3 linked regions of the Homo sapiens genome follow. The protein of the gene in region 2 purifies or fractionates together with the protein of the main gene of each other region. This does not show direct contact. Each region holds a gene or a part of one and is shown on either strand. Other genes may lie near its edges. The genes, in order: PPP1R9A, MYO6 and AP2A2.

Region 1 (3,731 bases), on a different chromosome or scaffold from region 2:
TAGTAATATGGCAAGTTATCTAAGATGTTTAACTTCTAAAGCTATATACTTAACCTACTGGCTCACTTTTGTGTGTAACTACTCCACCCTGCATAAGCAAACTGCTACAGCCAGGCTGGGATAGCCTTGTACCTTTAAATCATATGATATGTGCCTGTCTCTGTTAATGACATCACTTTACCCGCTATTCCCTCCTTACCTACCCTTTTTTTCCCTTAAGTGCTTTGATGGCTATTCTAATTGTACTTCCTTGGATAGGTTTTGTTTACCAACCTCAGCTGGACGCAATCTCTCTCTCTTCTGAGCGTTGATATAATTGTACTCTATCTATACTTGCAGAGGCCCAATGCTTTTAATAAGCAATAAATCCTGTAAAGCTTTAAAAAAGCCAGTTTCTATTTACTAGACATTAATTCAATGAATATTTTTGAACACATCTTCTGGGTCAAATAATGTGTTATTAACCACACAAAAAATTAGAATAATAATCTCTAGTAATTGTGAGTAGAAAATTGATAGTGTTCAATTTACTTTATTTAATCTTGACTGAACAAAGGCCCAGTGCTATGTAAGCCTCGGGACCAAAACTTTAGTATTAGGTTGTTTATATAACAGGAACGAGGAAAATATTTTCATGCCTTCTACTGGCATATAACCTGTTTTACAAATCTCTAGAAAAAAATCTTTTACTTCCTCTAATTTGATATTCCGTTAGATGCTTATCATTTAGCCAGTTATAATGGGACTTCTCCATCCTAATTTCCACTGATGTCCCTCAGATATGAAAAAAAATGATTTGTAAATGTGGTATTGACACAATTCAGAAAATCGCCAACTCCTGTTAGGGTAACCAGAGCCTTATCCTCAAGCCTGCAATCAAACATGGCTGTAATTAATCATCTTTGTGGTAACTTGATAGACCAAAAGTAAAGGTATAACACTTTTTAAAAATTCTAGATAAATGGCAACCAATGATGAAGCCATTTTCAGAGTTTATCCAGCAATTTTGAGTATAAGAAAATATACTTCTAGACCAGGCATCAGGAAGCTTTCTTTACCTTTCAGGGGCCACAGAGTAAAATATTTTAGGTTTGTGAGATACACAGTCTCTGTCACAACGACTCAACACTGCTACTGTAGCATGAAAATAGATAGTATGTAAGTAAAAAAGTGTGACTGTACTCCCATAAGACTTCATTTACAAAAGCAGGTGGAGACTACATTCGGTTGATTATCCCTCTTCTAGAAGATCTGCACTGGTTACGTGGAGAGGTATATTAGCAATTCATCCAAGAACATTATTAAGTATCAATTATATGCCTGTGTTACTTTGATCTTCGTCTTTTTTTCCTATATGACTACGTTAGTGTTTACTGAAACTCTGGGCTGCTATTCTACAAAATCGCTCTATATTTTTCTATATGACTATGTAGTGTTTTTTTCTTTATGACTGTGTTAGTGTTTGTTGAAACTCTGGGCTGCCCCACTCCCCTGAAGAACTCCCTTGAGTAGTAAACTTATAGAGAGCTGAAGAGATAAAAATACTGAACCAGATAGGAAAAGATAAAACTAAATTAAAGTAAAATACATGGAGGGGTTGTTTCTCTTATTCTATAATATAAAAAGAAATTAATATTAATTATTAGCTATGAGAAAACAAATGACTTATGATTATGAGAAAAAGTCATTTTTATACTGTACAAGCTGAGGTGTTATGAAGTCAGAAAAAGAAATTAACAATACCTTTTTCTCGTAATATTTTCTTGTTGGTGGTTTGGTGATGGCAAGGAGATTCTTCCACATCATGATCAGACTTTGAAGTAGAAAACAGTGAAGTGTCTCCCCACATAGAGGAGAGAGGCCCCATTTCTGGGTCCAGTGGTTCTTCTTGAAATTCAGCTATGTGGTCAGACGAGAAGGGCACATTGCTATCCACCGGGGTGAGGGGTGGAACACCAGAATCTGATTCTGGAGAAGACGTTCTCAAACCCTTAGGTGGAAGTAATTTGGTAATATGCATGTGGTTATAGAAACTGTTTGATGGCTGTTGGTATAAGAGATTATAAGGAAGGTTATGCCACTGAGTATCAGTTCTATGCAATACTTACTTTGAAATAAGACCAACCTTTTATTAGTGAATCCCCATGAAAACCAGTTTTTGTTGATTTACAGATGAGAATGCATGGTTCATACCAATTCACCATATTAACATCGTCACTAATACATATACCTAAGACCTACAGAAACAATTACTTGTACGTTCATTATTTCCCACTAAGTAAAACCAATAGCTGAATATCAAAAGCACCATCATGAAATATGACAATACAGATAATGCTCTTGGTTAGTTCACTGAATGAATAGACAAAATATTTTGAATTACAACAATATAAAGAATTCAGGAGACAAAGACGTGAACTATTCTAGCTGCTTACCAACTAGGACATAGACTCTGTTTGCAGAAAAATCATAATCTTCAATAAGCTGTAGGAACAATGATATACTCCAACAGTACAAATCAGGAAACGGTCAAGGGTGCTCACCTTTCTCTCTAGACTGTCCTCCCCATCTGTGGAACTAACACTATCATACAGTCTTGTCCTAGAGGGTCTCTGGCGTCTGTTCTTCACAGAGAGCTGGGCTCGAGTTTTCAGTGCTTTTGAATCCAGGCGCTCTGTCTCTGGGACTGCTTCATTCAAGTCTAAGAATATTGAAAGATAATCAGTGAGAGAAACCTTTGGAGAGAACTGATGAAGAGACCACAGACACTGATAAAATCTCAAGGTAACCAGTAACATCAGGTAAGGATCAGGTGACCACCATGACAGCCTGTAACCAAGAAATAACCAAGAAATCAGTGGGGCTTAGGAGAAATATACAAAGTCAAAGGAAGAAACCAACACTAAAGATGATGAAGGCGCTATAAAAATCCAACATCCGAAAAGCATACAACCTTCCTGCAATATAATTATAAAAATCACTAATTTGTATTTACTATTTATGTGTATGCATGTTGGGAAGTTAGATGACCAAAGATATAGAGGAGGGTATATCAAAAGTTGACAGATCTTAGAAACCAAGGACAAAAAACCTACAAAGTCAGGTTTCCAGTTCAACTACAGGCAACAGAAGGTAACTATCATAAATTTACTGTAGCAAAATTTACTAGCAGTCTTCAGGTACTATATCATTTTCATTTTAATATATAATTTTCAACCCAAAACAGTTTCTGAAAATCTACCTTGTTCCTTTTTGAAACCTGTAGAAAGACCAGTGAGGAATTTACCTAATCAGCAAATTGACGATAGCTGGGGAAAAGAAACAAGGTCTGGCTACACAAATGAAGAAACAAACAGTTAAAAAATCGTAAGTACTTAGTTTACTAGTATTGTGGATGAGGTAGGATAAACATTTCCTTTTCTTTCATTAACATCTAACTTTGTATTACAAGTTATTTGTATGTGCCTCTGACTCATCTCTGTGAATACCTTCTCTCCCCACCAGAAACGACACTGATTTTCGAAGGGTAAATACTTAAGTCTTTAAATAAAAAGGCTAAAAGAAAAAGAGAGTAAAGTGGGACACAAAGAAAATGAACTATTAACAGCAAAGGCCACAGAGAGAATTCAATTAGTCCTCTTTAGCCTGGCTCTTACCACCTTTAATTTTGCTACCTAGATTTTAAGTTAGGACCCCGAAGTTAACATTCTAAAGGAAAGGTACCCATTAAC
Region 2 (3,500 bases):
ATACATTTTTACAGTTCTTATCATAATATACATTTCAATTTCTATCTCTACCATTGTTATATACTTGTCCATGTTAATACATTATCTTCATAGATACGATAATGTAATTAATTTTGTGAAAATAGCAATTTCCTCTCCAATTTTGTAGGAAAAAAATGGGATCCCTTATTTTGTTTTGATTTTTATTTATTTGATTACTAGTGGAGTTGAAGACTTTTCTATATGCTTGTTAATTATATTTCATATTTCATTAATTACATTTCATATCTTCTCATTATATTTTAGAGTTTTAATGCTTTTTCTCAGTTTCATAGGTCAGTGCAAGTATGTGGGATATAATGAATATCTTAAAGTGAGCGTTTTATATTTTCTGCAGATATTTTATGTAAACAATGGCAATCTTGGAGGTAGAAAGGAAAAAAAAGATCTGGAGGAAAATGAAAATGCTATAAATAGACTCAGCTGATTTTATAAATCTGTCAAGGGCCATCTTTGTTTATGTGGTATCATTATAAATTAAAATTAACCCACCCACATTTTTTGAAGGCTAATTTTAGAAATCCAATAATTTTGGATATATTTTGTAATTTTTAAAATATTCTCTAGGTACTATTTGAACATTATTCTAAAATAGTAGTAAACTATTGCTAAATTAGCTGATCATTACTTAAGAAATAATTCTTTTTGAGATAAGAGGCTTGCTCTGTTGCCCAGTCTGGAGTGCAGTGGCATGATCTCGGTTCACTGTAACCTCCGCCTCCCGGGTTCAAGCAATTCTCCTGCCTCAGCCTCCCGAGTAGCTGGGACTACAGGTGTGTACCACCATGCCCAGCTAATTTTTGTATTTTATTTTTATAAGAGACAGGGTTTCACTATGTTGGCCAGGCTGGTCTCGAACTCCTGACCTCAGGTGATCTGTCCACCTTGGCCTCCCAAAGGGCTGGGATTATAGGTGTGAGCCACTGCACCCGGCCTAGAAATAATTTTTAACTGCAGTATATTACCTTATCCACAGATTACCTGTCTAATTGATGTGTAATACTTGTGTGCAGAGATAACATAAAACATTTTTTGAATAGTATTTAATGTACAAACAGTATAGTAAAGATAACGGACGTATTGCTTACCATCTTACCTAGTTTTTGCTGTATTTGCATATTGGAGTAGTTTTTTATTTTAAATTGTAAAAAACAATAAAAACATTAAAATTTATCTTAGCCATTTTTCAGTTTATAATTCAGTATTGTTAAGTATATTCACATTGTTGTGCAACAGAAGAAATAAGCTTTTACGTACCTATTTATTTTATTTTTTAAAGTCCACTATGATGACGCAGGAACAAATCCAGAAAGAATATGATGCACTGGTTAAAAGCTCAGAGGAACTCCTCAGTGCATTACAGAAAAAAAAACAGCAGGAAGAGGAAGCAGAAAGGCTGAGGCGTATTCAAGAAGAAATGGAAAAGGAAAGAAAAAGACGTGAAGAAGACGAAAAACGTCGAAGAAAGGAAGAGGAGGAAAGGCGGATGTGAGGCATTTATATTATTTTGAATAAGAGACTTAAAGAAATAGTGAATTCTTGGTATTGACAGTGGTTAATGACAATTATTTGTTTTGTTTTGTTTTTGTGACAGGGTCTTGCTCTGTTGCCCAGGCTGGAGTGCAGTGGCGCGATCTTGGCTTACTGCACTCTGCCTCTCGGGTTCAATCGATTTTCCTGCCTCAGCCTCCTGAGTAGCTGGGATTACAGGTGCGCACCACCACGCCTGGCTAATTTTTGTATTTGTAGTGGAGACGGGGTTTCACTATGTTGGCCAGGCTGGTCTCAAACTCCTGACCACAGGGGATCCACCCGCCTCGGCCTCCCAAAGCGCTTGGATTACAGGCGTGAGCCACCGTGCTCGGTTGACAATTCTTAAAACTGTGTTCTTATTTTAATGAACTAATTTTGTAATAAGTTTGAAAATTGAGAGAATAAGGTCATTTTATAATAGTGATACCATAAAATAATTTTAACTATAATCTGAATTTGTTAGCCTCTTACACCTGAGGATTTTCTTCTTTTTAAAACTATGATTTGTTTATTGTTTTCTAAGCTAGATAAATGACACTTCTACTTTTCTGCAGTTTTAAAACTGATAACATTTTGAAAGATTGCCATGATAGGGTAGAGAGAACAGATGAGTTGTTGACTTGGAGAGGGACTAGAGGGAAGCACCTTTAATCAGGACCTTACAGCCAGGCTTTGTAACCACATTCATCTAGAGATGTTAAAAGTTATAGAATATAATTATATTTGTTTTATTTAAGAATTATTGTCAATAGAGTTAAATTTTATTTTATTCAAAATAAGTTGATGTATGTGGCCAGGAGGTTAATTTGCATTCCCAATCTGTTACCTTTGTTTATTATTAAATAATAGTTAAATTGCCTTCTGAAGGATTCTTTATTTTCTGTTAAATTTTTGAAGAGTTTTCTATTTTTTATTAGGAAACTTGAGATGGAAGCAAAGAGAAAACAAGAAGAAGAAGAGAGAAAGAAAAGGGAAGATGATGAAAAACGCATTCAAGTATGTACTTACTGGGTTGAATTTCTATTAAAATGGAACCTACAGGCTGGGTGTGGTGGCTCATGCCTGTAATCCCAGCTCTTTGGGAGGCCGAGGCGGGCGGATCACGAGGTCAGGAGATCAAGACCATCCTGGCTAACATGGTGAAACCCCATCTCTACTTATACGAAAACAAATTAGCCGGACATGGTGGTGGGCACCTGTAGCCCCAGCTAATTGGGAGGTTGAGGCAGGAGAATGATGTGAACCCAGGAGGCAGAGCTTGCAGTGAGCCAAGATGACACCACTGCACTCCAGCCTGGGCAACAGAGCGAGACTCCATCTCAAAAAAAATAAAAAATAAAAAATAAATAAAATAAAATGGAACCTATGAAAGAAGTGAAAATGAGATCTTGATTTGCTAGATAAGCTGTCACTAGTTTATCCTAGAGACCAAAGGCCAGTTTTTGAAGTGGTTATGGGAATGGACTTTGGAGCTAGGGAAGTGGGTTCAAATCCAAGATCAGTCACTGACAGAAATTGTGACATTGTACACATTATAGTGAGGAACTATGGGTCACAGTTGTCTCTCTGTAGAATGTGGATAAATAATAGTTGCAAGCATTTGACAGTTAATACATGTTAAAGCATTGTGAACACTGTGTAGATCAATAAATATTAATAATTGTTTTTATACCTAGGGGAAAGTCAAATGAAAATTCACTTAAAATGTTAAGTTTTAAAATATCATATAACTTTGTAGATACTGGAATTAATAAATTAGGATTAAGAGTCTCTCTCCACCCCTAGTTTTTAAAAAGTCCCATGTTGAGAATAAATTGCTCATGTATTTGAATTTCTGTTTGTCATGGCTTTCATAATATATCCTAAGCATAACCAAAACTTTAAATTCCTGACATCTGCTCTCTAGGTGTTAGTGTTAATGGGATGCC
Region 3 (3,731 bases), on a different chromosome or scaffold from region 2:
TTAGATATGGAGAAACTGAACACTAAATTTTAAACTCTGCTTAAACTTCAGTATAAAAATTAAACATAAAGTTATACTGATTTTCGTGCAGACGAGTGAAGATCAGCATCAGAATTGGTCAGTCTGCTTTTGCATTTCTTAAATAACCTTCACAGTTAAAAGCTCATTTTGTCCTTTTGACTGTACATTCCTAAAAAGTGCTGACTCTTAGAAAAGAATGCTCTCCTTGCATGTCTTCTTTTGCATGCTTCTGCATAATGTGTGTTCCTTAGAAACCAGTTTAGGAAATGTGTCATGGTGGCTATGGAGAGAAGGAAGGAAGTCCTTGCTCGGGTTGAATTTTTCTTGCCAAGGTTGGTGGTCACTGCTTCTGGGACACCCTGGTTCTCTTCACAGTGTTTTCCGTCTGGCTCCTCTGAAGGTCAGGATCACTTTCTTTTATGACAAGTTGAAGTGTCCTGGTGGTGAACATATTTTGTGCCAGATACTTACTATTACTTCTCTTTCCTCTTAAAATGAACTGTTACTTTTGGTAACAATCTGTGTCAAGATTTTGTAGTAGAAGAGTTCCTGGAAAGGCTGTCAGTGAAGGATTAAATGGCATTTCCTTGGCTCTTAAAAAAATCAAATACGCCGGGCGCTGCGGTTCACGCCTGTAATCCCAGCACTTCGGGAGTCCGAGCCAGGTGGATCACCTGAGGTCGGGAGTTCGAGACCAGCCTGACCAACATGGAAAAACATGTCTCTACTAAAAATACAAAATTAGCCAGGTGTGGTGGCACGTGTCTGTAATCCCAGGTACTTGGGAGGCTGAGGCAGGAGAATCACTTGAATTTGGGAGGCGGAGGTTGCAGTAAGCCAAGATTGCGCCACTGCACTATAGCCAGGGCGACAAAGTAAGACTCCGTCTCAAAAACAAACAAACAAAAAACCCCAGAAATGAACAGTTTTTACCAGGCCACATGATGTCCCAGACTTAGATTATAAAACCACATTTGCTGATTCTGGCAGCATGTTCCTTCTTCAGAACCTTCCTGACTTTAGCTTGAAAGCTGAGCTGGTTGAAACGTCTTGAAAAGCAGTATGTGCAGTTTTGTCACGAGAGAATTTCCGGGTGGGTGGGATAGGTTGAGGTGGGTGTTCCCGTGTAGAAGTGGGGGCTGAAGCTGTGTGGTAAGATGAGCTCTGTGCTTGGGACAGGGTTGTAAGGGTCTGGCCAAGACGCATAGAAGAAATAGCATGTGAGTAGGAAGCAGCCCTATTTTAAATAGCGCCCTGGAGACTTGAATTGGGAAGAGGACCAAGAAGAGTGTGAGGCAGTGAGATGCCCAGCACCAGGGTGGGAGAGGCGAGTTCCAGTGACTCGTGGGCACTCAGGAGCGGGGATGACCCCAGAGACACAGGGAGCTTGGAACCATGCTTCTGTATTCAGACATGACTTTCTGCCAGCTTTGCACGCTTTTTCCTGAAACATTGTTGGCAGAGGGGAACTTGTATCTTCTGTTCAGTTGATTCTCGATTTTAAACGTTTGTTGCCTTTTGGAGCCTGCACTTCCCCTTACCTGGTGATTGGAGTGTGGGAATGGTTGGGGGTATCAAGGCTTCAGCAGGCTGGGAAGGTGGCAGGAGCACAGGGTGCCAGGGGTGGGCTGAGGGGCTGGTGGGTGCTCCGGGATTTTAGGAGGAGTGCTGTGCCCACAGCTGCTGTGTGTCCCTGAGGCCAGGGAAGTCCTGACTCCCATGCTAGGTTCTTTCTGCCCCATGTAGCTCCCTCAGCGCCCCCACCCCGATACCTCAGGAAACTCCAGGTCGAAACTCCAGGTCGAGTGGCAGACCTCCTGCTGGGTGCGTTCTTAGGAATAACACTTCTAGCCGGGGGTTTGGGTCAGATCCTGATTCTACTCTCCTTTGTTTCCCACTTTTAAATTTTTTATATTTATATTTAAAATTTAGAGACAGGGTCTCACTATGTTGCCCAGGATGGTCTTGAACTCCTTGGCTCAAGTGATCCTCCCCCATCAGCCTCCCAGAGTGCTGGGATTTATAGGTGTGAGCCACTGCGCCCAGCCCTTTCCCACCTTTTCAAATTGTAGCCCTGTCGAGAGCCTGGAGTCTTCATCTTTGCCTGAAATTCAGACTCCGAGTTGTGATGGTTTTGTGTTCATCTCTGTGCTTGGCTTCAGGATACTCCCCATTTACCTTTCTTCTCACCCACCCTAAGCTTTGGTGTCTGTCTACGGGTTTGCTTAGAAGTGTAGAGACCAACAGCCAACATGGGGTGCCTGGCTTTTGTTTTTGCGTTGTGGGGTGTTTTTCTTACCTTTAAAATCCCTCTGATGGCAGCACAAGGGTGTAATGAGGATTAGTTATTTAGCATATCTAAAGAACTTTGAGCTCCTTAGGGCAGGCGGCACTGTATTAGGATTTATGTTTTGCTTTTTCTGTGGACCGCCTTTGTGTTTCATGTAATGTAGCTGAAATAGCAAGTACGTGTTTCTTTTCTTTTCTTTTTTTTTTTTGGAGATGGAGTCTCATTCTCTCACCCAGGCTGGAGTGCAGTGGCGCAATCTTGGTTAACCGCAGCCTCTGTCTCCTGGGTTCAAGCGATTCTCCTGCCTCAGCCTCCGGAGTAGCTGGGATTACAGGAGCGCACCACCATGCCCGGCTAATTTTTGTATTTTTGGTAGAGATGGGGTTTCACCATTTTTTTTTTTTTGAGACTGAGTCTTCCTCTGTTGCCAGGCTAGAGTGCAGTGGTGCGATCTCTGCTCACTGCAACCTCTGCCTCCCAGGTTCAAGTGATTCTCCTGCCTCAGCCTCCCGAGCAGCTTGGACTACAGATGCGCGCACCACCATGCCCGGCTAATTTTTGTATTTTTTTTAGTAGAGACGGACTTTCACCATGTTGACCAGAATGGTCTTGATCTCTTGACCTTGTGATCCGCTAGCCTCGGCCTCCCAAAATGCTGGGATTACAGGTGTGAGCCACCGCGCCCAGCTGGGGTTTCACCATTTTGGCCAGGCTATTCTCAAACTCCTGACCTCAAGCAATCCACCCACCTCGGCCTCTCAAAGTGCTGGGATTACAGGCATGAGCCACTGTGCCTGGGCGGTTTTGAATTTTTAGTAGAGACAGAGTTTCGCCGTGTTGGCCAGGCTGGTCTTGAACTCCTGACCTCAAGTGATGCGCCTGCCTTGGGCCCCCAAAGTGTTGAGATTACAAGTGTGAGCCACTGTGCCCGGCCAGTTTTTTTTTTTTTTTTTTTTTTGAGATAGAGTCTCGCTGTGTTGCCCAGGCTAGAGTGCAGTGGTGTGATCTCGGCTTACTGCAACCTTCGCCTCCCGGGTTCAAACAATTCTCTGTCTCAGCGTCCTGAGTAGCTGGGATTGCAGGCACCTGGCTAATTTTTTGTATTTTTAGTAGAGACGGAGTTTCACCATCTTGGCCAGGCTGGTCTTGAACTCCCGACCTCGTGATCCACCCGCCTTGGCCTCCCAAAGTGCTGGGAATTACAGGCGTGAGCCACTGCGCCCGGCCTATTCCTTTTTTTTTTTTTTTCCCCCAGGCGGAGTCTTGCTCTGTCTCCCAGGTTGGAGTGCAATGGCACTATCTCGGCTCACTGCAAGCTCTGCCTCCTGGGTTCATGCCATTCTTCTGCCTCAGCCTCCCGAGTAGCTGGGACTACAGGCGCCCACCACCACGCCTGCCTAATTTTTTTTTTTTTTATTTT

What was found.
Region 1: the proteins of MYO6 (region 2) and PPP1R9A purify together in Homo sapiens (affinity purification with mass spectrometry; 2 studies listed by BioGRID and IntAct, with this or other methods). This does not show direct contact.
Region 3: the proteins of MYO6 (region 2) and AP2A2 purify together in Homo sapiens (affinity purification with mass spectrometry, with the first as the bait; one study listed by BioGRID). This does not show direct contact.

What each region holds. Positions count from the first base shown.
Region 1 is NC_000007.14:95,267,520-95,271,250, reverse strand, and holds part of PPP1R9A (neurabin-1), read right to left. Parts: intron 2,702-3,731; coding exon 2,544-2,701; intron 2,045-2,543; coding exon 1,744-2,044; intron 1-1,743. UniProt on the Homo sapiens protein: Binds to actin filaments (F-actin) and shows cross-linking activity. Binds along the sides of the F-actin. May be involved in neurite formation. Inhibits protein phosphatase 1-alpha activity.
Region 2 is NC_000006.12:75,888,739-75,892,238, forward strand, and holds part of MYO6 (unconventional myosin-VI), read left to right. Parts: intron 1-1,318; coding exon 1,319-1,527; intron 1,528-2,489; coding exon 2,490-2,568; intron 2,569-3,500. UniProt on the Homo sapiens protein: Myosins are actin-based motor molecules with ATPase activity. Unconventional myosins serve in intracellular movements. Myosin 6 is a reverse-direction motor protein that moves towards the minus-end of actin filaments.
Region 3 is NC_000011.10:932,357-936,087, forward strand, and holds part of AP2A2 (AP-2 complex subunit alpha-2), read left to right. Parts: intron 1-1,168; exon of another isoform or gene 1,169-1,241; intron 1,242-3,731. UniProt on the Homo sapiens protein: Component of the adaptor protein complex 2 (AP-2). Adaptor protein complexes function in protein transport via transport vesicles in different membrane traffic pathways.